Homo sapiens: one gene and its partners. The protein of the gene in region 1 interacts with the protein of each later gene in a biochemical or structural test. Each region holds a gene or a part of one and is shown on either strand. Other genes may lie near its edges.

The links. The genes of interacting proteins can lie anywhere in the genome.
Region 2: the proteins of LY9 (region 1) and INPP5D interact in a biophysical measurement, tested with the Homo sapiens proteins (one study listed by IntAct).
Region 3: the proteins of LY9 (region 1) and SH2D1A interact in a biophysical measurement, tested with the Homo sapiens proteins (one study listed by IntAct).

What each region holds. Positions count from the first base shown.
Region 1 is NC_000001.11:160,790,751-160,800,100, reverse strand, and holds the start of LY9 (T-lymphocyte surface antigen Ly-9 isoform a precursor), read right to left. Parts: upstream 3,928-9,350; 5' UTR 3,914-3,927; coding exon 3,790-3,913; intron 2,992-3,789; coding exon of another isoform or gene 2,826-2,991; intron 416-2,825; coding exon of another isoform or gene 349-415; coding exon 19-348; intron 1-18. UniProt on the Homo sapiens protein: Self-ligand receptor of the signaling lymphocytic activation molecule (SLAM) family.
Region 2 is NC_000002.12:233,063,334-233,071,389, forward strand, and holds part of INPP5D (phosphatidylinositol 3,4,5-trisphosphate 5-phosphatase 1), read left to right. Parts: intron 1-8,056. UniProt on the Homo sapiens protein: Phosphatidylinositol (PtdIns) phosphatase that specifically hydrolyzes the 5-phosphate of phosphatidylinositol-3,4,5-trisphosphate (PtdIns(3,4,5)P3) to produce PtdIns(3,4)P2, thereby negatively regulating the PI3K (phosphoinositide 3-kinase) pathways.
Region 3 is NC_000023.11:124,370,555-124,374,708, forward strand, and holds the end of SH2D1A (SH2 domain-containing protein 1A), read left to right. Parts: intron 1-796; coding exon 797-837; 3' UTR 838-2,606; downstream 2,607-4,154.

The sequences.
Region 1 (9,350 bases):
AAGCTCTCTGGAACTCACCATAGACGAACAGGGTGAATTCCTCCTCAGTGGTGACTTCAAAATTCCTTTGGTTTATCTGGGCTTTGTAGGATCCTGCATCATTCAGAGTCAGATTGCTGATGCACAGGGAGTAACTCCACTTGGTGATGTCTAGTCGGCCCAGGTAGCTTTTGACCATAATGGTTACATTTTCTTTGGGACGTGCGAAAGCAAGAGCATTTTTGGGACCAATCCAGATGACGTTCTCAATCTCTGTGTCTACTGAGATGTTTAGGGGGAGAGTCACGGAACCCCCTAGGATCCCTGACACCACTGTTGGGGCTGAGTCCTTTCCAGAGGCTCTTAGTCCTGCAGAGATAGAAGAGGGACTTGGAGGAGCAGCTAGACTCCTTGAGCTAGCCTTCTTTCTTTCACTCTGTGAATATACATTGGGCATAAATGTCAGATGCTGAGAAATGAAATGAGATTCTTGTCCTCCTTCTTCTAGGTCAATTGCCTAGCACAGTCATTAATTCCTCCATTCCCCAAACACTGTCTCCCTTAAAAGCAGCCACAACAATCTGTGAAACAGATCTTCTGGGTTTCTGTTCCAGTAGAGGAATTAGCCTTGTGACTTTGGGTACATTTCTGAATTTTTCAGTGAATCTTATCTAAAAGATTGAAATGCTCATACCTGCACCATTTTCTTCAAGGGATATGGTAAAAATGAAATGAAAGCAGGTTGCTGCAAATTGTGAAGAGCCAATGAAGTAAAAAGGAGCATATTTTTAAAAATATGGGTGGGTAGAGGGATGGTTAGATGGGCAGGCGAGTGATAAAGCAAGCAAAGTAAAACGTTTGTGTTAGAATCTAGGTAGTAGGCCTATGAATGTTCAGGGTAAATGCTCCAACTTTTCTGAATGTTTGAGAACTCTCATAGCAGTGTCGGGAACTAAAGGAGCTTCTCCTACCTCTACCTCACCCTTATTGTCCATGGCATCTCAGATTGACTTTGGTTTGGCCAGGTTTGGGGGTGGGAATAGCTGGTGGTACTAATACAGTTCCTGATTTCCTCATCTTAGGCAAGATCATATTCCTGATAAACATTGTTACCAAGGCATCTAGGAAGCTGGTATTTGGCCAAGGCAGTTAATTTTCTTGTAGGGACCCTGTGGGTGTCTTCTGGGTGACCCTAGCTTGGATTCCCAGATTCCAGGGCTTCCGAGGCTCTGGAGAGCACTTTTGAAATTCTAGACCAAAACAGATGGGTTTGGGACCCAGACTCCACCAGGAATTCTGGGTGGGAAAATAAGTAGAAAATGTTAGAGACAAAAAAGGAGCATAAGCATAGCCTGGAGGGGCGGAAGAAAGCTGAAGCAAGCTCTGAAAACCCAGAGGATACAGAATATGCAGACACTGGAAGGAGAGAGGCTGCTTGGTGCAGGTCATGGGGGTTCTCTGCTTAGACCTCCATCAGCCAAGCACTTGCACCTTGTGGAGAGGCAGCTATGGAGCATGCAGGGCTAGGGATCCTGGACATGAGAAGGTTGGGTCAGGTGGATTCTTTAGGCAGATTCAGGCTGAGTTGATGTGAGGTTGGTTTGAGGTTTTCTAAAAGAGAGCTCTTCCCATCTGGAAGAGACTGCTTACGATTGCTATGTGTGCATTAGGTACTTTATGTAAATTATCTCATTTAATTCTCATAACTATACTATAATTAGCCCCTTTTTACAGATGAGGAGCTGAAATTTAGAGAATTTAATCCACTTCCCTGAGATTACAGGGTTGATCAGTCACAGAGTCCAGATCCTATGTCCATGATGCCCCTGGAGTAGGGAGGCCAGGAGTACTGCCCATCTGTATCCTGGAAGCCCAGGAGCTGCTGGGTCTTGACTGGGTGCATATGACTCGTTTTGACTTCAAATTTTCTTACATCAGACAAAAACCATAAACAAAAGCCTCACAGACTCTCAGTGGAGGGGGCAGGATGTGGGCCTCACAGGGCAAATCTTGTTGCAGAAGACAGTGCAATGCAGCTCCCAGTACAATGACAGGTCCCCAGTACCAGTCATTTTATTTTGAATTGCACCGTAGGACAAATAATAAAAGAGCATTCAAAGATTGCAAAACTGAATTTGACTCACCTGTCTCTTAATAGTTTCCAAAGAATGCACGTAACAGTAATTATAATAATAACAATCATAGCTTCTGCCAACTATGTGCCACTATACGTGTGTGTGTGTGTGTGTGTGTGTGTGTATAGATCATCTACAATCTGTAAGAGTGTTGCATGATGCATCCTACTAACTATATTTTACACTTAAGAAATAGAGGCCCTCATCACTAATAAATGATGGAGCAATGATTTAATTTCAGATGTTCCTGATACTAAAGTGAGAGGGGTCTTTTCACTCGACTGCCTTTTAAGTTCCTGAAATGACTCTTTGGAGATACAAAAGCATCATCCTTTCAGACCAAAAGAGTGAGATTTGAGGTCATCCTAATCAGTGGAGCCAGACCAATGGAGATGCCTCTTTGCTCTGAACTGTTTGAAATTCACTGCATTGATCATTTGCGGCTTGGATGACCTTGAATGTAGCTTATTTCAGGTTTGCTCAACACAATCAAGGAACACCCCAAAGGTTGGAGGTAAACATAAACAGCCTTGCTGCTTTCTGTGTGTTTTGATGAGCCAAGATAAAATTGAAAGTGAAAAGAGGTCAGACTGGACCTCAGCTCTGAGGTCTAGGCTCCTCGTTCACCCATATCTGCATCTAGGAGTGTTTCTAAAGCTCCCTTCAGGCACCAACTGCCAACCCCCACTGCTCTCAGATCTCTAGTGCTACCTGCACCATCATCCCTGAAGCCCTGGAGAAAGCGGGAGCACAGAAGGACAGTAGCTGCCACAGTCCCAGGTGGCTGAGATCCTCTCTGGGGTACTGGATTGGCTCTATCTGCTGGACAGTGGGGTTCCGGGCCATGCAGCGGAGAGATGTTTCCCAGGAGTTGGGCCTTGATAGGGAGGAATAAGGTTGAGGAGAAAAGGATATCCAGATAAACGCCACCTTGCCCATGGTCACCTAACCGCGTCCAGGTCCCCAGTGAAACCTCAGTAATAAAGCCAGCATATATGATAACCAAGGCAGGATACATAGAAAGAAGCTCCAGAAGTTCTCTCCATCCCTAGGAAATTGCTAGGTGGCTTCTCATCAGGGGATTTTCCTGGATCCCTCTGTGGGTTTTATCCACACCATACAGGGAACAAACTCATTATATACTTGGCATTTCTTAGGAAAATGTGAGGGCAAGAGAAATGTAGTTTGAGCCCAGAGCTATTTGAGACCGGGGCTAGAATGTTACCCCCTTCATAGTGCACGAATATGCACACATGCAAAGTAATTTCTGGCAAGGAGATGAGTTTCCCGATTTTACCAACAAGAACTGGGCTCACGCCTGTAATCCCAGCACTTCAGGTGGCTGAGCTGGGCAGATCACGAGGTCAAGAGATCGAGACCACCGTGGCCAACATAGTGAAACCCTGCCCCTACTAAAAATACAAAGATTAGCTGGGTGTGTTGGCATGCACCTGTAATCCCAGCTACTCAAGAGGCTGAGGTAGGAGAATCGCTTGAACCCAGGAGGTGGAGGTTGCAGTGAGCCGAGATTGCGCCACTTCACTCCAGCCTGGCAACAGAGTGAGACTCCGTTAAAAAAAACAAAAAACAAAAAAAAGAATCTCCCAGGCAGGGAATGCAACTGGCCTCAGAAGAACCGCAGTAGCAAGAAGTGGTGGCCATAAAGTGGACTTACCCATGAGCAGGAAGAGGAGAGAGGTCTGTAGAACAGAAGAGAATATTTGCAGCTGACTCCTCTGTGGCTTACTGGAGAAAGGCCCAGGAGCCCAGTCATCTGTGTGACTCTTTGGTGCCACCATGATGATCTATTTTCAGAACTGAGACTGAAGGAGGATGCACTTACCACAGCTTCCGCACGTGTCACAGCTTCTGCATGTGTATATGAGTGTGTGTGTGCATGTGTATGTGTATGTGTGTGTGTCTCAGAGGGAGGGTTGTTTATACAAAACACCACAGACTCCTCCCATCTGCGCAGGCAGGTAGAGGTCCCAAGTCTATTCAGGGCCTCATTTGTGACTGATGTGGAGCATCACTTGCTTTGACATCAAGGGACTTGGGTTCTAAATTTGGCTCCTAAAGGTGACTGCTAAAGATCTGTACCTCCTGGCATTCATGCCTCTGTGTAATCACCTCTTCTTTAGTGTGGCCTGGATTTAGTGACTTGCTTCAAGTGAATAGAATGTGGCAGAGATGTGGGATGGGTCACTTCTGAGATTAGGTTACAAAAAAGCTGTGACTTCCATCTTGGGTTAGCATGTGTGTGCATATGCGCTCTCTCTTTCTCTTGCCCTCTCTCCCTCTCTGTCTTTCCCACTATCTCTGTCTCCCTACCTTACACTGAGGGGAGCCAGGTATTGTTTTGTGAGATACTTTAGGGAGAGGGTTCCAAAACAAAGAACAGAGGGAGGCCCCCAGCCAACAATCGGCGAGGAGCTGATTCCTCTGGCCAACTGTCCATGAGGACTGAGGCTAGCCAAGAATCACATGAGTGAGACTGGAAGTGGATCCTCCCCAGGAGGTCCTTGAAATGACTGCAGCCCTGGCTGACACCGTGATGTTAGTTGTGTGAGTACCTTAAGCCAGAGGCACCCAGCTAAGCCATGCCCAGATTCCTTATCAAGAGAAACTGTGAGATAATAAATGTTTGGTTTTTAAATTTTTTTTCAATTTTTTATTTTTCATCAAAAATGCTTATTGTTTTTAGCTGTGAAGTTTGGGGCAATTTGTTACACAGCAACAGATAACTAATACAGTGACCCAATACATTTTCTATTTTGCTCAAGGCAGTTTGTGCTAGCTTTCTGTCACATGCAATGAAGGACTTTTAATATGGACAAAGGCATCAGGGAGACTGCAATGGGGGTGGACATCGTATGTGACAGCGTAGAGGTGACTGAGTTGAAAAGGTAGGCTGGAGAATGGCATGATTCCCTATATCCTGACTTGGGAAACTGTCTTTTTCTCCTCCTTCTTCTTGTCAGTAGCGTAATAGCTGGCCATGCTATGGTTTGTGTTTCGGGCTTCAGGTCATTTGTTTACTTAGGCTGTAACATTAAGGGGACTTGGCAGGAAAACTTGAGGCTGGCAGAATGTGTAGTTTTAGCTAATATTCGATGAAAGCTTACAGAGTGCTAGTCCATCTTCTGACACTTTAACATATTCACTCATTTGATCTTACAATAGTTTTATGAGATATCTTTTATCATCCCCATTCTATAAATGAGAAAACTGAGGTGGAGAGGGGTTAAATAGCTTACTATAAGTTTTATAGTTAGTAAGGACTTGAACCCAGGAAGTCTGGGTTCAAAGGAAGAAGGGAGAGAGAGAGAGAAACCATTAAGATAACAGGCTTATGTCCATGGAAAGCATCTTTAGAGGCTGGTCATGATCTGATGTTGCACAATATTGAAAGTGACAGAATCTCGAAAATCTTTAAATTTTGTGCACTAGGAGCGTGTCTTGTTTCACTCTAGCCTTGGTCCTGTGACTAGAACATGGGCTGTCTAGAGGGGATTGCAGGACATACGGTCAGGAGAGGTTACCAGAGCCCAGATAAAGCATCCTGTTACCAAGCTAAAGGCAACAAGAATCCAGTAGGAGTAGGAAGCTTCCTGGAGCTGCAGAGTGGAGGGAGAATGGGTGGAAGGGATGAGCCTGGGGATGAGAAGACAGGTGCGGAAGCTATTGAAGGAGTCTGGGTACAGAACATGAGAGCAGGAACAGTCTGCATGGGAGGCGAGGGCAAAGGCAGAAGGGAATTCAGAGAGATTGGTAATAATAAAAATCATTACTAACATTTATTGGGTAATTACTATGAGTGAGCCTCTGTGTTTAGAACTTTACATATGTTTTCTCCTTTAATCCTAAGATAGACCCTATTTGGATGATACTCCAATTATCCCCATTTTAGAGATGAGAAAACTGAGATTTAGGAAAGTAACATCACTGAAATGACCTCCTTTGAAGTTGTGACCATAGGAGGACACAGCCTTATAATACACAAAATCCAATTTAAGTATTATCATTTAAGTATAGTAAAACCTAAATTAATATAAATTTTGGTATGATGCATTTGTTAAGTGTGCCCTGTCCTCACATGGGGAGGGCTAATATTCTCATCAGGACAGGGAGGCAAAGGCACTAGCATTGGGAATCAGGGAGCAACATCCAGTGATGCTGGCCCCGGCGTCTCCAGTGTTGTCCTTCTCAGTATACTTCAACCACCCCAGCAAGTGGGTGTGACTGACTGGAAAATTTTTGAAATCCCTGCTACTGTCCTTGGAGTCCCGCCAGCTACAGGCCCAGAATCACCCCTGTCAACTGGGCATTGCCTCCAGGTAGCATCAGACTCCAGCCTGGGTTGAGATTTGGGTCTGGCAGCCACAACCACATACTCAGCTGTGTTGCTTCACCACCAGCCCCCAACCAACACTTCATTCACTGTGCAATTAAGACGACCCTGCATTTTACACAATTGCATTTTTTGGACTTTATTTCTAATGTTGTCTTGACTTGCAGTATATATATGCTACTACAGATTGGAAGAATATGAAAGACTGTAGAATTTTGACAAGCTCAAAGCTTTTTACACTTAGATGGAAAGACAAATATATGTTAGGAGCTAAAGAAATTCAACATCAAATCAACTGCTGCAGCCACAGTAGAGGGAAGAATTAGGGAATGTCACAGTGTTCAAGTGGAATCTAGGGATATAGGCTATGAGACCAGCCTTTTAGAGGGTAGCAACAAAACAAGCAAAAAGTGGTGCTGCCAGCTGGGCACATTGGCTCACGCCTGTAATCTCAGCACTTTGGGAGGCCGAGGTGGGCAGATCACGTGAGGTCAGGAGCTCAGGACCAGCCTGACCAATATGGAGAAACCCTGTCTCTATTAAAAATACAAAATTATTGGGAGGCGGAGGCGGGCGGATCACGATGTCAGGAGATCGAGACCATCCTGGCTAACATGGTGAAACCCCGTCTCTACTAAAAAAAAAAAACAAAAAACAAAAAAACAAAATTAGCCGGGTGTGGTGGCACGCGCCTGTAATCCCAGCTACTGGGGAGGCTGAGGAAGGAGAATCGCTTGAACCTGGGAGGCGGAGGTTGCGGTGAGCCGAGATTGTGCCATTGCACTGCAGCCTGGGCAACAAGAGCGAAACTCCACCTCAAAAAAAAAGGGGTGCTGGTAATACCATTAGTTAACATGTCAGTGATATTTCTGGTCATTAAGCAACTTTAGCTAATTGAGAAGGTACCCCAGGAAATGGCTGTAAATGGGATGACATAATTGTTTCTTTTGTGGTTATGAATCTTTCAATCCTGGGAAAATAAGGAATACAAAATAGACATGTTCAAGGTAATCAGTTAGTATTTTTTAAGTATATGTATTGTTTGAGGAAATTTAGTTCATTAAAATTGTAGTAAACTTTGTTGCCACGGTTTGAATGTATTTGTCCCTCCAAAATTCATATGTTGGAAACTTTTTTTTTTTTAATGAGATGGAGTCTCACTCTATCACCCAGGTTGGAGTGTAGTGGTGCAATCTCAGCTCACTGCAACCTTTGCCTCTTGGGTTCAAGTGATTCTCCTGCCTCAGACTCCCGAGTAGCTGGGACTACAGGCACGTGCCACCACACCTGACTAATTTTGTATTTTTAGTAGAGACAGGGTTTCACTATGTTGGCCAGGCTGGTCTCGAACTCCCAACCACAGGTAATCCACCTGCCTCGGCCTCCCAAAGTGCTGGGATTACAGGTGTGAGCCACTGTGCCTGTCCTATATGTTGGAACTTAAACCCCAAAGCGATAGTATTGAGAGGTGGGGCCTTTTGGGAAATGATTAAGTCATGAGCACTCTGCTTTCATATATGGGATTAATGCCCTTATAAAAGAGACTTCAAAGAGTTATCTGGCCCTTTCTTGCCCTTCCACTATTCTGCCATGTGAAGACAGTGTTCATCTCCTCTGGAGGATGCAGCAACAAGGCCCCACCTTGGAAGCACAGAGTGAGCCCTAACCAGACCGAGAGTCTGCTGGCACCTTGATCTTGGACTTCCCAGCTTGCAGAACCATAAGAAATAAATTTCCACTACTTATAAATTGCCCAGTTTAAGATATTTTTGTTATAGCAGCCAGAATGAACTGAGATATTTGTGTTTCTGATTTAAACTATGCAATTGATTTACATTTGTGCATTTGTGATTTTAGTTGGAAATCTTAATTTACATGAAGAATTGAATAATTTAAGACAACTTAAGAATGACCACACTTAGAAGTTTAATGTATTAGGTTTACAAGCCTTTAAGTATTTGGGAAGTTTATTTGCTGATTAAAATACTTTAAAACAAAACTAAATATATTACATTTATAAGTTAGAATAATAAGGGAATCAACTTATAAATTTGTAAAATGAGTCAAATTATTATTATTATTATTATTTTACTTTTGAGACAGGATGTTGCTCTGTGACCAAGGCTGAAGTGCAGTGGTACGATCTCGGCTCACTACAACCTTTACTTCCCTGCTCAAGCGATCCTCCAGCCTCAGCCTCCTGAGTAGCTGGGACCACAGTCATGAGCCACCATGCCCGGCTCATTTTTGTATTTCTTGTAGAGATGGGGTTTCGCCATGTTGCTCAGGCTGGTCTCGAACTCCTGAGCTCGAAGTGATCCACTTGCCTCGGCCTCCCAAAGTGCTAGGATTCCAGGTGTGAGCCACCATGCCTGGCCATGAGTTAAATCTTATTAATAGTCCTCAAGAAGGGTAGTTAAAATTTGCCTAATTTGTAAGCAGAACAGTAAGATTTGTAAGCTGAACTGAACTTAAGGCTGACTTAGGTTTTAAATTTATTTATTTAATAAATTGAATATGAGTTCTTAAAAGCAATATGGCCTATGAATAAATTTTTATGTGCAAAAACCATCTTCAAGGAAATAAATTATAAAGGAGAACTCCTAACTCTCATTGATTGGCAGGTAGTTTGCCTAGGTCACACAACTAGCAAGCAGCAGAGGCAGTATTCAAACCAGAAAGCCTCATGCCCAACACACTGTACCCAACCAGAAAGTAAAACCACCTGCATTACTTTATTTTTTATTGACATAAATTTTCTTTCCCACTAGACTGTAAGCAACACGGTTGCAGACACTTCCTTTCATCTCTGTATCCCCAGTCCTTAGCACAGAGCTTTTGTGGCACCTAGCAGGAACTCAACGAATATGCATTGAGTGAAGGAG
Region 2 (8,056 bases), on another chromosome or scaffold:
GGCCCCAGCAGCACTCCCTCCCAGGCCCCCTCTGGTGGGCAAGGGGACAACGGCCGGAGTCTCCACCTGATGGTTTGGGCAAGTGTGCCTGGAGTCTCAGGAACTGAGAGCAGCCTCACCAGGGAGGGGCCTTTGTGCTCAGGAAAGAGAACAGGATTTGACTATGTAAATGGACTTGAGCGGGGGTTGGACATCAAAAGACAGGGCTACAGTTCAGTGCCACCCATGTGACTTAGGAGTGCACATTCTGCGCACACCCAGCAAACCCTGCATTTCCTCGAGAGAGGTCAGCCCCGTCACCTACCACTGGGCAGGAAAGCTTTGATCTCACCTCAGCAGCTTGGAAAGCCCTGCTTGACAGGGAGCCTGGGCTCCATCTCGGGGCACAGACAGTTGCAGTGGGAAGACTCCAGCAGGTGGCTGCCTGGTTTGGGTCCAACTCTGCCGTCTTTCAGCCAGGGGCTCTTCTAAGTAGAGCCTATGTTGTCCCCACCTGGTCCCCACTCAAATCCCCCGGCAGAGTTGGCCCTGCTCCGGGGGGAGTCTGTGGGTGCCTCCAGGGGACGTTGGGTACATCGTGGGTGGGAGACATTAAGAGCTGTCAGGCTCATGCCCTCTCCTGCCACGCAGGGGCCAGCACACCTGGCAGGGCCTTATGCTGCAAAGAAGAGATGCCTTGGGAATGGGGTCAGTCAATGCAAGGGTCCATGGGTTGGCCGAGCCGGCATCCCCTTGTGCAATCTGCACAGGCAAAGCTGATCAAAGGCCCAATGTCAGTATATAGGCTGCCCTCTCTGCAGGAGCAGCTGGGGCCCGGGATCAGGCCTAGAGTGGCCGGCTCAGCTGTCTGCCATCCAGCCTGGAGTTGCGCAGGAGGGCGGCGTTCCCAGCCAACCACTCCAGAGAGAGGGGGCTTCCCTCATGGGGGAGGCGAAGGCACGTGGCTGCCTTTGGCTCAGAACCCAGTGCCTGGTCTGGCCACAGCTGACAGTGTGGTTTTGGTTTCCCTCCACATGTGGCCTTCCACAGGCCACCCAGGCACCATGGCAGGGTCTTGCTTACCCCTTCCCAGGGGCAGTGTAGACAGTGCACCGGACAGACCTGGCTTCACCAGCAGAAGGTTGTTACCAACCTGCTCCGCCTAATAACAGCAGGCAACTTCCAAAGAGCTCTGTGCCAGGCACCATTCTAGGCTTATATTGACTCATTTGATGTCCACGAAGACCTTCAAAGGAGGTCTTATTATCTCCACTTTACAGATGGGGAAACCGAGGTGCAGAGCGGTTTATGGAACAGGCCTAGTTTACAGGACTAACAAATAAAAGGGCCAGGATTGCATGCATGATCTTCCTGGAAGCGAGAAACAGAGACCATAAGGTGGCCTGTGTGGGGCGGGGCAGAGCCTGGAGAGGGAACTTCTCGTGATGGAGCCGCAGAGAAGGGACTTGGGAGGGCGAAACTCCTAATCTCAGAGAGTCCAACAGAGTTGGAAAGCTGTGGTGTGAGCGGGTGGCTAAGTCTCCCTTTCGAAGCTTCAGTAAAATAGACACTGTTAATTGTTTTTGTGCAAATGCAATAAGGCACTATTTTTCATATCTGATATTGACAGTCAGTGGGAAAAAATGCTGGCCCAGGTCGTAGCCAGAGCTACTGACATCTGGCTCACACCAGAAAGCCGGCCAAGGGGCTTTATCCAAGGCTGACTGTGCCGGGTTTTCTCTCTGCATGCAAGACCAGGAAGGGGTATGTGCCCTGGAAGGCCTATGTATTTCACTCACTAACTGTATCTTCCATGTGAAGTGACGCAGAGCAAGCATGTTAAAATGGAGTCTCCAGGTTTTCTGTGCCTACGCTCAGCCCCCGTGAAAAGTCCTTTCGGGTCCAGAGATTAGGCTCCAGCTTTGATGCTTTGCATGTTTGTCTACCTGGTAGGTTAAATTCATAAATTCATGAACACAATCAGCACTTCTTGGGTTTTTTTTTTTTTTTTTTTTGACAGAGTCTTGCTCTGTCGCCAAGGCTGGAGTGCAGTGGTGCAATCTTGGTTCACTGCAACCTCCGCCTCCCAGGATTAAGCAATTCTCCTACTTCAGCCCTCCAAGCAGCTGGGATTACAGGTGCCTGCCACCACACCGGGCTAATTTTTTTTTTGTGTTATCCTCAGGTGATCTGGCCTCTTTAGCCTCCCAAAGTGCTGAGATTACAGGCATGAACCACTGCACCCAGCCTTTTTCTTTCTTTCTTTCCTTCTTTCTTTCTTTCTTTCTTTCTTTCTTTCTTTCTTTCTTTCTTTCTTTCTTTCTTTCTTTCTTTCTTTCTTTTTTTTTTTTTGAGACAGAGTCTCGCTCTGTCGCCCAGGCTAAAGTGCCATAGCATGATCTTGGCTCACTGCAACCTCCACCTCCAGGATTCAAGCAATTCTTCTGCCTCAGCCTCCTGAGTAGCTGGGATTACAGGTACCCACCACCATACCTGGCTAATTTTTGTATTTTTAGTAGCGATGGGGTTTCACCATGTTGGCTAGGCTGGTCTCAAACTCCTGACCTCGTGATCCACCTGCCTCGGCCTCCCAAAGTGCTGGGATTACAGGTGTGAGCCACCGCACCTGGCCTTTTTTTAAAATTATTATTATTTTATTTTTTATTTTTGAGACACGGTCTTTCGCTGTTGCCCAGGTTGGAGTGCAGTGGCACAATCACAGCTCACTGCAGCCTTGCTTGATCAAGCGATCCTCCTGCCTCAGTTTCCCGAGTAGCTGGTATTCCAGGTGCAAGTCACCAAGCCTGGCTAATCTTTTTTATGTAGAGACAGGGTTTTGCTATGTTGCCCAGGCTGGCCCCCAACTCCTGGAGTCAGGTGGTTCTCCCACCTTGGCCTCCCGAAGTGCTGGCATTACAAGTGTGAGCCGCTGCACGCAGCCTCACATCAGCACCTCTCAATCAATTGGTGCCATCTCCCTGCACATGAACCCTTGCGTCATGATGACATGTGGTCCTCACAGCCAGGCATTTCTCCCCACCCCAGACATAGAGTGAGAGGAGCTCTGCTCTTCCCTCAATAATTCGTGCCATGCTGTGCACTCCTGAGGAGCAAGGCTCTGTGGTCTGCTGGCTCTGCTGGGCTGCATTTGCAAAATGCTAACCTTCCTGTGTCAACCCAGCATCTTCACAGGTGGAATGAGGATGACAAGGCCAAAGCCCACTCGTTGGGTTATTTTTTCAAATTGAGGTATAATTCATATTCCATACAGTCACCCTTTCTATGGTGTACAATTCTTAATTTTCTTTTTTTCCAAGACAGTCTTGCTCTGTTGCCCAGGCTGGAGTGCAGTGGCATGATCTCGGCGCACTGCAACCTCTGTCTCCCGGGTTGAAGTGATTCTCCTGCCTCAGGCTCCTGAGTAGCTGGGATTACAGGCGCATGCCACCATGCCCGGCTAATTTTTTTTTTTCTTTTTGAGACAGAGTCTCATCTCACCCCTGTTGCCCAGGCTGGAATGCAATGGTGTGTTCTTGGCTCACTGTAACCTCCGCTTCCTGAATTCAAGCAATCCTCTGCCTCAGCTTCCCAAATAGCTGGGATTACAGGTGCCTCCCATCACACCCAGCTAATTTTTGTATTTTTAGTAGAGACGAGGTTTCACCATGTTGGCTAGGCTGGTCCCGAACTCCTGACCTCAGGTGATCTGCCCGCCTAGGCCTCCCAAAGTGCTGGGATTACAGGCGTGAGCCACTGCACCTGGCCCTGGTATACAATTCTTTATCGTGCTTTTAGTGCATTCACAATGTTGTGAAACCAACACCACTGTCTGATTCCAGGACATTCTCAATACCTCGAAAAGAAAAGAAACCCTGTACCCACAGCAGTCACTCCCTATTCCCTCTCCACCCAAACCCTGGCAGCAACTAAATGACTTTTTGTCTATGGATTTATCTTTTCCGGATGTTTCATAACTGGAAACATACAACATGTGGACTTTGGGGCCAGCTTCTTTCACTGAGCACAATGCTGTCAAGCTTCATCTGTGTTGTGGCATGAATCACTCCTCTCCAGGGCTGACTAATGAGCCACTGTATTGAAAGAACCACATTTTGTTTATCCATTCATCAGTTGACAGGCATTTGGGTTGTTTCCACTTTTGGGCTATAATGAATAATGCTGTGATGAACATTCATATACAAGGTTTTGTGCAAACATATATTTTCAATATTCTTGGGTCTATATCTAGGAGCAGAATTGCTGGGTCATTTAAGTCTAACACTTTGAGGAACAGCTAAACTGTTTTCCTTGGTGGATCCACCATTTTGCATTCCTACTAGCAACATCTGAGGGTTCCAATGTCTCCACTTCCCTACCAGCACTTGTTATTATCTTTTTTATTATAGCCATCCTAGTGGGTGTGAAGTGATGTCTTATTGTGGTTTTAATTTGCATTTCTCTAATGGCTAATGATGCCAAACGTCTTTTCTCATGGTTAATGGCCATTTGTATTTGGAGAAAAGTCAATTCAGATCCTTTGTACATTTAGAAAACAGGGTTGTTTGTCTTTTCCTTGTTTCCTTGGGTTATCAAGAGGACAAAATGGAAAGATGTGAGTGACATTTACAGCCCAAGTCCAGGCATGTGGTAAGCACCCACCGAATGCTTTGCACACATAAAAATCATGCTGGTGCTGGGCAAGGTGGCTCATGCCTGTAATCCCAGCACTTTGGGAGGCCGAGGTGGGTGGATCACCTGAGGTCGGGAGTTCAAGACCAGCATGACCAACATGGAGAAACCCCATCTTTACTAAAAATACAAAATTAGCCTGCGATGGTGGCATATGCCTGTAATCCCAGCTACTCGAGAGGCTGAGGCAGCAGAATTGCTTGAACTTGGGAGGCAGAGGTTGTGGTGAGCCGAGATGGCACCCTTGCACTCCAGCCTGGGCAACAAGAGTGAAACTCTGTCTCAAAAAAAAAAAAAAAAATCATGCTGGTGATCAGGTGTGGTGGCTCACACCTGTAATCCCAGTACTTTGGGAGGCTGAGGCAAGAGGATCATGAGGTCAGGAGTTTGAGACCAGCCTGGCCAACACAGTGAAACCCTGTCTCTACTAAAAATACGAAAAATTTAGCTGGGCATGGTGGCGGGTGCCTGTAATCCCAGCTACTTGGGAGGCTGAGGCAGGAGAATTGCTTGAACCCAGGAGGTGGAGGTTGCAGTGAGCCGAGATCGTGCCATTGCACTCCAGCCTGGGCGACAGAGCTAGAATCCGTCTAAAAAAAAAAATCGTGCTGGCAATTAGTCTTTATGAGCTAAAAGTGACTAGTGACATCTCAGAAGCAGAGGAGTACAGGACCCATCTGTGAAGAACATTCCATACAGAGGAGAGAAGAGAATGGGGGCAGAGGATTGCTTAGGAAACTTCCTGGAGGCCTCTGGGGGATGCTGAGTTGTCACTTGAGGCCTCCTTGGAGGAAGCACTCAGAGAGATGGAAGCAGGAAGAGGACTGAGTGATGCCCCTGTGACGGAGGCTGCTGGGGACAGGGCTGGGAGCCTGGAAGCCAGCAGGAGGAAGGGATGGGGGCACAGAGGCACACAGAGTGAAACCAGGGGCAATGAACATGACATCAGGAAGAAAGGCAGGCATCTGAAGACCACTGGGCTCCAATTGAGGGGGTGGGTGCAGAGGGTACTGAAGTCCTGGGGCTGAGGACGATGGAAGGAGCACAGCATGTTCCATGACGGGGGTACTCAGGCTTGACAGGTGCGGCAGCACGTGGGGACCAGATTCTCTCCCCTGCTCACTTCAGGCTCCTGTTGTCCCCTTTCATTAGGAAAACACGATATTAACAAGTGCAGGCCCCTAACAGTTTGGGTTCAATACTTACTGTAAACAACCCCACGGAGGGCTGTCCCCGAGAGATCATTTGGGACCTCCCCGGAGCAGAGAGGCTTGCTGGACCACACAGCTGTCAGTGGCAATGGAGAAACAAATAGATCTGATAAACAGCAATGTCCTGTTCTTTAGAGTCACTTTAAAAAATGGTATTTATACAAAGCACAGAAAGTACAAAGCAAAAAGCAGAAAAGTAACCACCCCATCACTGAGACACTAGAATAACCATTGTTAATTCACTGGTGTATCTTCTTCTTCTCTCTACCTCCCTGTATGTATGTAATTTCCATTTTGTATATACATGTATTACATGTATATGTATAATTTTAGTCTGAGATTTCTAGCAGCATTAGCATTTTCCCATTTAGTTAGAATTTCTTCCTAAATATCATATTTTAATTTTAGTCTGAGATTTCTAGCAGCATTAGCATTTTCCCATTTAGTTAGGTTTTCTTCCTAATGATCATATTTAATGGATGTACAGGATTCTATTACATGATGTGCGACACTTCATGAAATGATTCTTCTATTATCAGATATTTAAGTTATCAACAGCATTTTGTTGTTATAAATATGACTGATGAAGGTCTTTTGCAGAAATGTTATAAACATGTCTGGTTATAGATTCCGAGGAGTGGAATTACTAGATCGAGGGACAGGAATGTTTTTAAGGCTCTTGATACAGAATGATACATTGCTTTCCAGAAATTTTTTTCCATATATGCACCAGTAAGCTGTACAAGAGAGTGCCCGCCTCATTCTAACCTTCCTATTCTGAATATTTTCATTTCAAAACACAATACATTGCAAGGTGAAGGTGGTGAATGTTCATTTTGATTTGCATTTGATTGTGGTCACGTTGAGCTTATTTGATAGAGTTATTGACCCTCATAATCCCTCTTTCGTGAATGGTCTGTTCAATTCTCTTTGCCATTTTTCTATCGAAGCTATAGTTTTTCTGTTATCTACTTGCACAAGTTTATATCACACTTGTTGCAAATATTTTCATTGTGATTTTCCTTTAAGTTTTATGATTTTTTTTTGACATTCAGGGACTGTAAATTTTTATATAGTGAAGTCTCTCAGTCTTTTCCTTTTTTCTCCCTTCGCTTTTCAATGCAGAGAATCCCTCTGCACACAGAAATTCACTTGTTTCTTCTTGTACAAGGCAGGTGGGTTATGACAGAGACTTTGGAGCTAATAGACTTGGGCTAAGGATTCAGCAGGTTTTTTTTTTTTTTTCGAGATGGTGTCTCTGTCTGTCACCCAGGCTGGAGTGCAATGGTGTGATCTTGGCTCACTGCAAACTTCTGCCTCCCCAGTTCAAGTGATTCTTCTGCCTCAGTCTCCCGAGTAGCTGGGATTACAGGCTCCCGCCACCATGCCCAGCTAATTTTTGTATTTTTTAGTAGAGACGGGGTCTCACCATATTGGCCAGGCTGCTTTCAAACTCCTGACCTTGTGGTCCGCTCGCCTCGGCCTCCCAAAGTGCTGGGATTACAGGCGTGAGCCACCGCGCCCGGCCAGGATCCAGCAGTTTATTTAATTCCACTGGGCCCTGGTTCCCCTTTCGAAAACCAGTGCTAAGAATACCTATGTGGTAATGTTGTGGGGCAGATTGGATGGAAAATATGTATCATGTTTTTAGCACAGTACTTGGTAAAAACAAATGAAGCAGTTATGGGTTTTTTACTTTTGTTTTTGTTTGTTTGTTTTACATTGAACCATTTAATCTCTCTGGAATTAATTTAACAAATGATGCAGGATACAGATTTAGGCTGGGCACAGTGGCTCACACCTGTAATTGCAGCACTTTGGGAGGCCGAGGCGGCCGGATCACCAGAGGTCAGGAGATCAAGACCATCCTGGCTAACATAGTGAAATCCTGTCTCTACTAAAGATACAAAAAAAATAAAAATAAAAATTAGCTTGCCGTGGTGGTGTGTGCCTATAGTTCCAGCTACCTGGGAGGCTGAGGTGGGAGAATTGTTAGAACCCAGGAGGCAGAGGTTGCAGTGAGCCAAGATTGTGCCTCTCTACACTCCAGCTTGGGCCACAGAGTGAGTCTCTGCCTCAAAAAAAGGAAAAAAAAAAAGATTTATGTGTATTTTTCTCAGCTAATCATCTTTCCCAAAACCTCTTACTGAATAACATTCCTTTACCCTTTGGGGTTC
Region 3 (4,154 bases), on another chromosome or scaffold:
TTTAACTGCTCTTGTCTGTCTCATCTTGTTCTTTCCTGTCCCTTTAATAGGTAGCTAAGTATGATTTCACTTCACTAATTCAGACACAAATAATGTGAAAGATGGTATAATTCAGAGAACACCTGGGCTGTCCTTTATCTTTGCTTAGTAAACTGTTTTTTCCTTCAGGGACATGAAAGCTAACGTTAGCCTGGCACACATGATTCTGATTTCTGAATTGGTGGTGCTTGAATTAATGACATTTTTCTGAAGCAAAGGAAATTAAATAGTGCACTTTATTGTTCCACTGGCACATATTGTTACATATCCTGAGCAAACCTATTTTAGTGTATGTGTCGTGCTAAAGACTGAATACCAGCCAATGTCTGTAGCTATCTGATACGTGACTGTTTACTCCTCTATTGAATGGGGTTTATCATTTGTTTGGAGTAAGAGGATAGGCCTTGATTGAAACAATAAATATTTATGATAAAAGAAAACGAGTCCCTTTTTGACAGGGACCTAGGCTCAGGCATAAACTGACAATTAGACTCAAGTGGTGAATTAAATTAATGAATAGTTAGCCTTTATAATACAAATGCAAATAGAGCTCTAATTTCCAAGTTGGCTAGTTGTTTTTTTCTGCCTAATATTCCATTCTTTATAACTCAGTTTTAAATAATAGTTGCTTGAGGTATATTACTGTGTTGTGTCATTGTGAGTTTTATGCAGTTGGAAATTTTATAAGTTTGAGTTAATCTGTAATTTTAATAGTTTGTAAGTTTATTTTTTCTTGATTTTTGTTATTTTTCTTTAGGGATAAGAGAAGATCCTGATGTCTGCCTGAAAGCCCCATGAAGAAAAATAAAACACCTTGTACTTTATTTTCTATAATTTAAATATATGCTAAGTCTTATATATTGTAGATAATACAGTTCGGTGAGCTACAAATGCATTTCTAAAGCCATTGTAGTCCTGTAATGGAAGCATCTAGCATGTCGTCAAAGCTGAAATGGACTTTTGTACATAGTGAGGAGCTTTGAAACGAGGATTGGGAAAAAGTAATTCCGTAGGTTATTTTCAGTTATTATATTTACAAATGGGAAACAAAAGGATAATGAATACTTTATAAAGGATTAATGTCAATTCTTGCCAAATATAAATAAAAATAATCCTCAGTTTTTGTGAAAAGCTCCATTTTTAGTGAAATATTATTTTATAGCTACTAATTTTAAAATGTCTTGCTTGATTGTATGGTGGGAAGTTGGCTGGTGTCCCTTGTCTTTGCCAAGTTCTCCACTAGCTATGGTGTCATAGGCTCTTTTGGGATTTTTGAAGCTGTATACTGTGTGCTAAAACAAGCACTAAACAAAGAGTGAAGGATTTATGTTTAATTCTGAAAGCAACCTTCTTGCCTAGTGTTCTGATATTGGACAGTAAAATCCACAGACCAACCTGGAGTTGAAAATCTTATAATTTAAAATATGCTCTAAACATGTTTATCGTATTTGATGCTACAGGATTTGAAATTGTATTACAAATCCAATGAAATGAGTTTTTCTTTTCATTTACCTCTGCCCCAGTTGTTTCTACTACATGGAAGACCTCATTTTGAAGGGAAATTTCAGCAGCTGCAGCTCATGAGTAACTGATTTGTAACAAGCCTCCTTTTAAAGTAACCCTACAAAACCACTGGAAAGTTTATGGTTGTATTATTTTTTAAAAAAATTCCAAGTGATTGAAACCTACACGAGATACAGAATTTTATGCGGCATTTTCTTCTCACATTTATATTTTTGTGATTTTGTGATTGATTATATGTCACTTTGCTACAGGGCTCACAGAATTCATTCACTCAACAAACATAATAGGGCGCTGAGGGCATAGAAGTAAAAACACCTGGTCCCTGCTCTCAGTTCACTGTCTTGTTGGACGAGAAAACAATAACGATAAAAGACAGTGAAAGAAAATAACGATAAAAGACAGTGAAAGAAAATAACAATAAAAGACAAGGAAAAAATAACAATGAAAGTTGATAAGTACATGATAAGCGAGGTTCCCCGTGTGTAGGTAGATCTGGTCTTTAGAGGCAGATAGATAGGTCAGTGCAAATACTCTGGTCCATGGGCCATATGAAAAGGCTAAGCTTCACTGTAAAATAATAACTGGGAATTCTGGATTGTGTATGGGTGTTGGTGAACTTGGTTTTAATTAGTGAACTGCTGAGAGACAGAGCTATTCTCCATGTACTGGCAAGACCTGATTTCTGAGCATTTAATATGGATGCCGTGGGAGTACAAAAGTGGAGTGTGGCCTGAGTAATGCATTATGGGTGGTTTACCATTTCTTGAGGTAAAAGCATCACATGAACTTGTAAAGGAATTTAAAAATCCTACTTTCATAATAAGTTGCATAGGTTTAATAATTTTTAATTATATGGCTTGAGTTTAAATTGTAATAGGCGTAACTAATTTTAACTCTATAATGTGTTCATTCTGGAATAATCCTAAACATATGAATTATGTTTGCATGTTCACTTCCAAGAGCCTTTTTTTGAAAAAAAGCTTTTTTTGAATCATCAAGTCTTTCACATTTAAATAAAGTGTTTGAAAGCTTTATTTACCTAATTTGTCTTGAAATATTCCTTATAATTCCTTATAAAATATTCAGAGACTGATGCTATTAATAAACCAAATAAAGGATTGATGATTATCTTATCGGAGTGATTCCCTGGAAAAGGTAAGTGCTTTTCTGATTTTATTGCTGTCCAAGTTCCCGGTTGATGAGCCTACTTCCTGTCTTCTTTGGCTGGCCTTTTATTCATCAAGTTTTTTTTTTTTTTTTTCACCTTTTCTTTCCCAACATGAGCATCCTTGCTATTTTCCAGTACGTAATCACTTGCACCTTTACAGAAAGGTCATATCCTTGCTGTATCTAAAATATTGCCATGCTAACATATTGTAAGATGCTGAGTCAAGGTAGAAAAATGCACAATATATTTCCAAGTGTGCAGCTCTCTTCAGAAAAAAAAAAAGTGTGTCAGCAAGCCCAAAAGGAACATGACAGCTTATCAAATACTTATTCATTTCCTCTGAAATTTGTTCTTAAGAGATAAGGTCAGTAGGGAGACAAGCTTAGGTAATTGTCTGTTTGGCTGTTACAGGCAGGGAACCTTTGTGGTAGTGCACAGGTAGAATAAGTCTATAGAGAATGCCTCTGATTAAGTCCTCTGCTATAAATAAAGGGCTGGATTTAAGATATTCTTTCGGGTAGAATGGACACAGAATTAAAAATGTGAGAAACAGCTTTAAACTCTGTTAATAATGTTTCAACATCAGCTTATGTTTTATTTGATTCACTTCGTTAAGCTTAGAATCCAAAGTCTACTACTAGTAAAACCCAGATTTGCCCTTGAGCATTTCAAGGTTATAGGATGCCTGGTCTTCCTGTTAGGATGCTATACATTCAACTTTGACACCTATGTTTTCTCTTGCAGTAAATGGGATACCACTATTTTGTAGTTTGCAACTAGGGGGGAAGTTAAACTACCCAGTTTGGACATTTTCCTAATTTGGGGTGATTGGCCAAACTTGTAGTAAAAGGCTGAATTCTTATCATTAGGTCATTTAGTTCTTAAATGAAGATTTTTTTTTTAATGTAGCAAGATATAATAAGGCTGACTAACTGGATAGAGTCCATTAACATATATGGAATTGAGATATATATATACATCTTGGTTGCACACATACACGCAGAAATAGAACTGTTTTCTCACAAGATGACAAAAGGCTATACTACGTATCACATTCAGTATTGGACAGAGAGAGTAAAAGCAGGAATGCATAAGAACTGATTTTTTTTTCTTTTTCTTTTTTTAGTCACCTGGTGGGCCATTTAAACATTTTATTTATTTATTTTTTAATTTTTATTTTACTTTAAGTTCTGGGATGCATGCGCTGAATGTGCAGATTTGTTACATAGGTTACATGTGCCATGGTGGTTTGCTGCACCATCAACCCGTCATCTAAGTTTTAAGCTCTGCACGCATTAGGTATTTGTCCCAATGCTCTCCCTCCCCTTGCCGCCCACCGCCTGACAGGCCCCAGTGTGTGATGTTCCCCTCCCTGTGTCTATGTGTTCTCATTGTTCAACTCCCACTGTTTTTCATCTTTGTC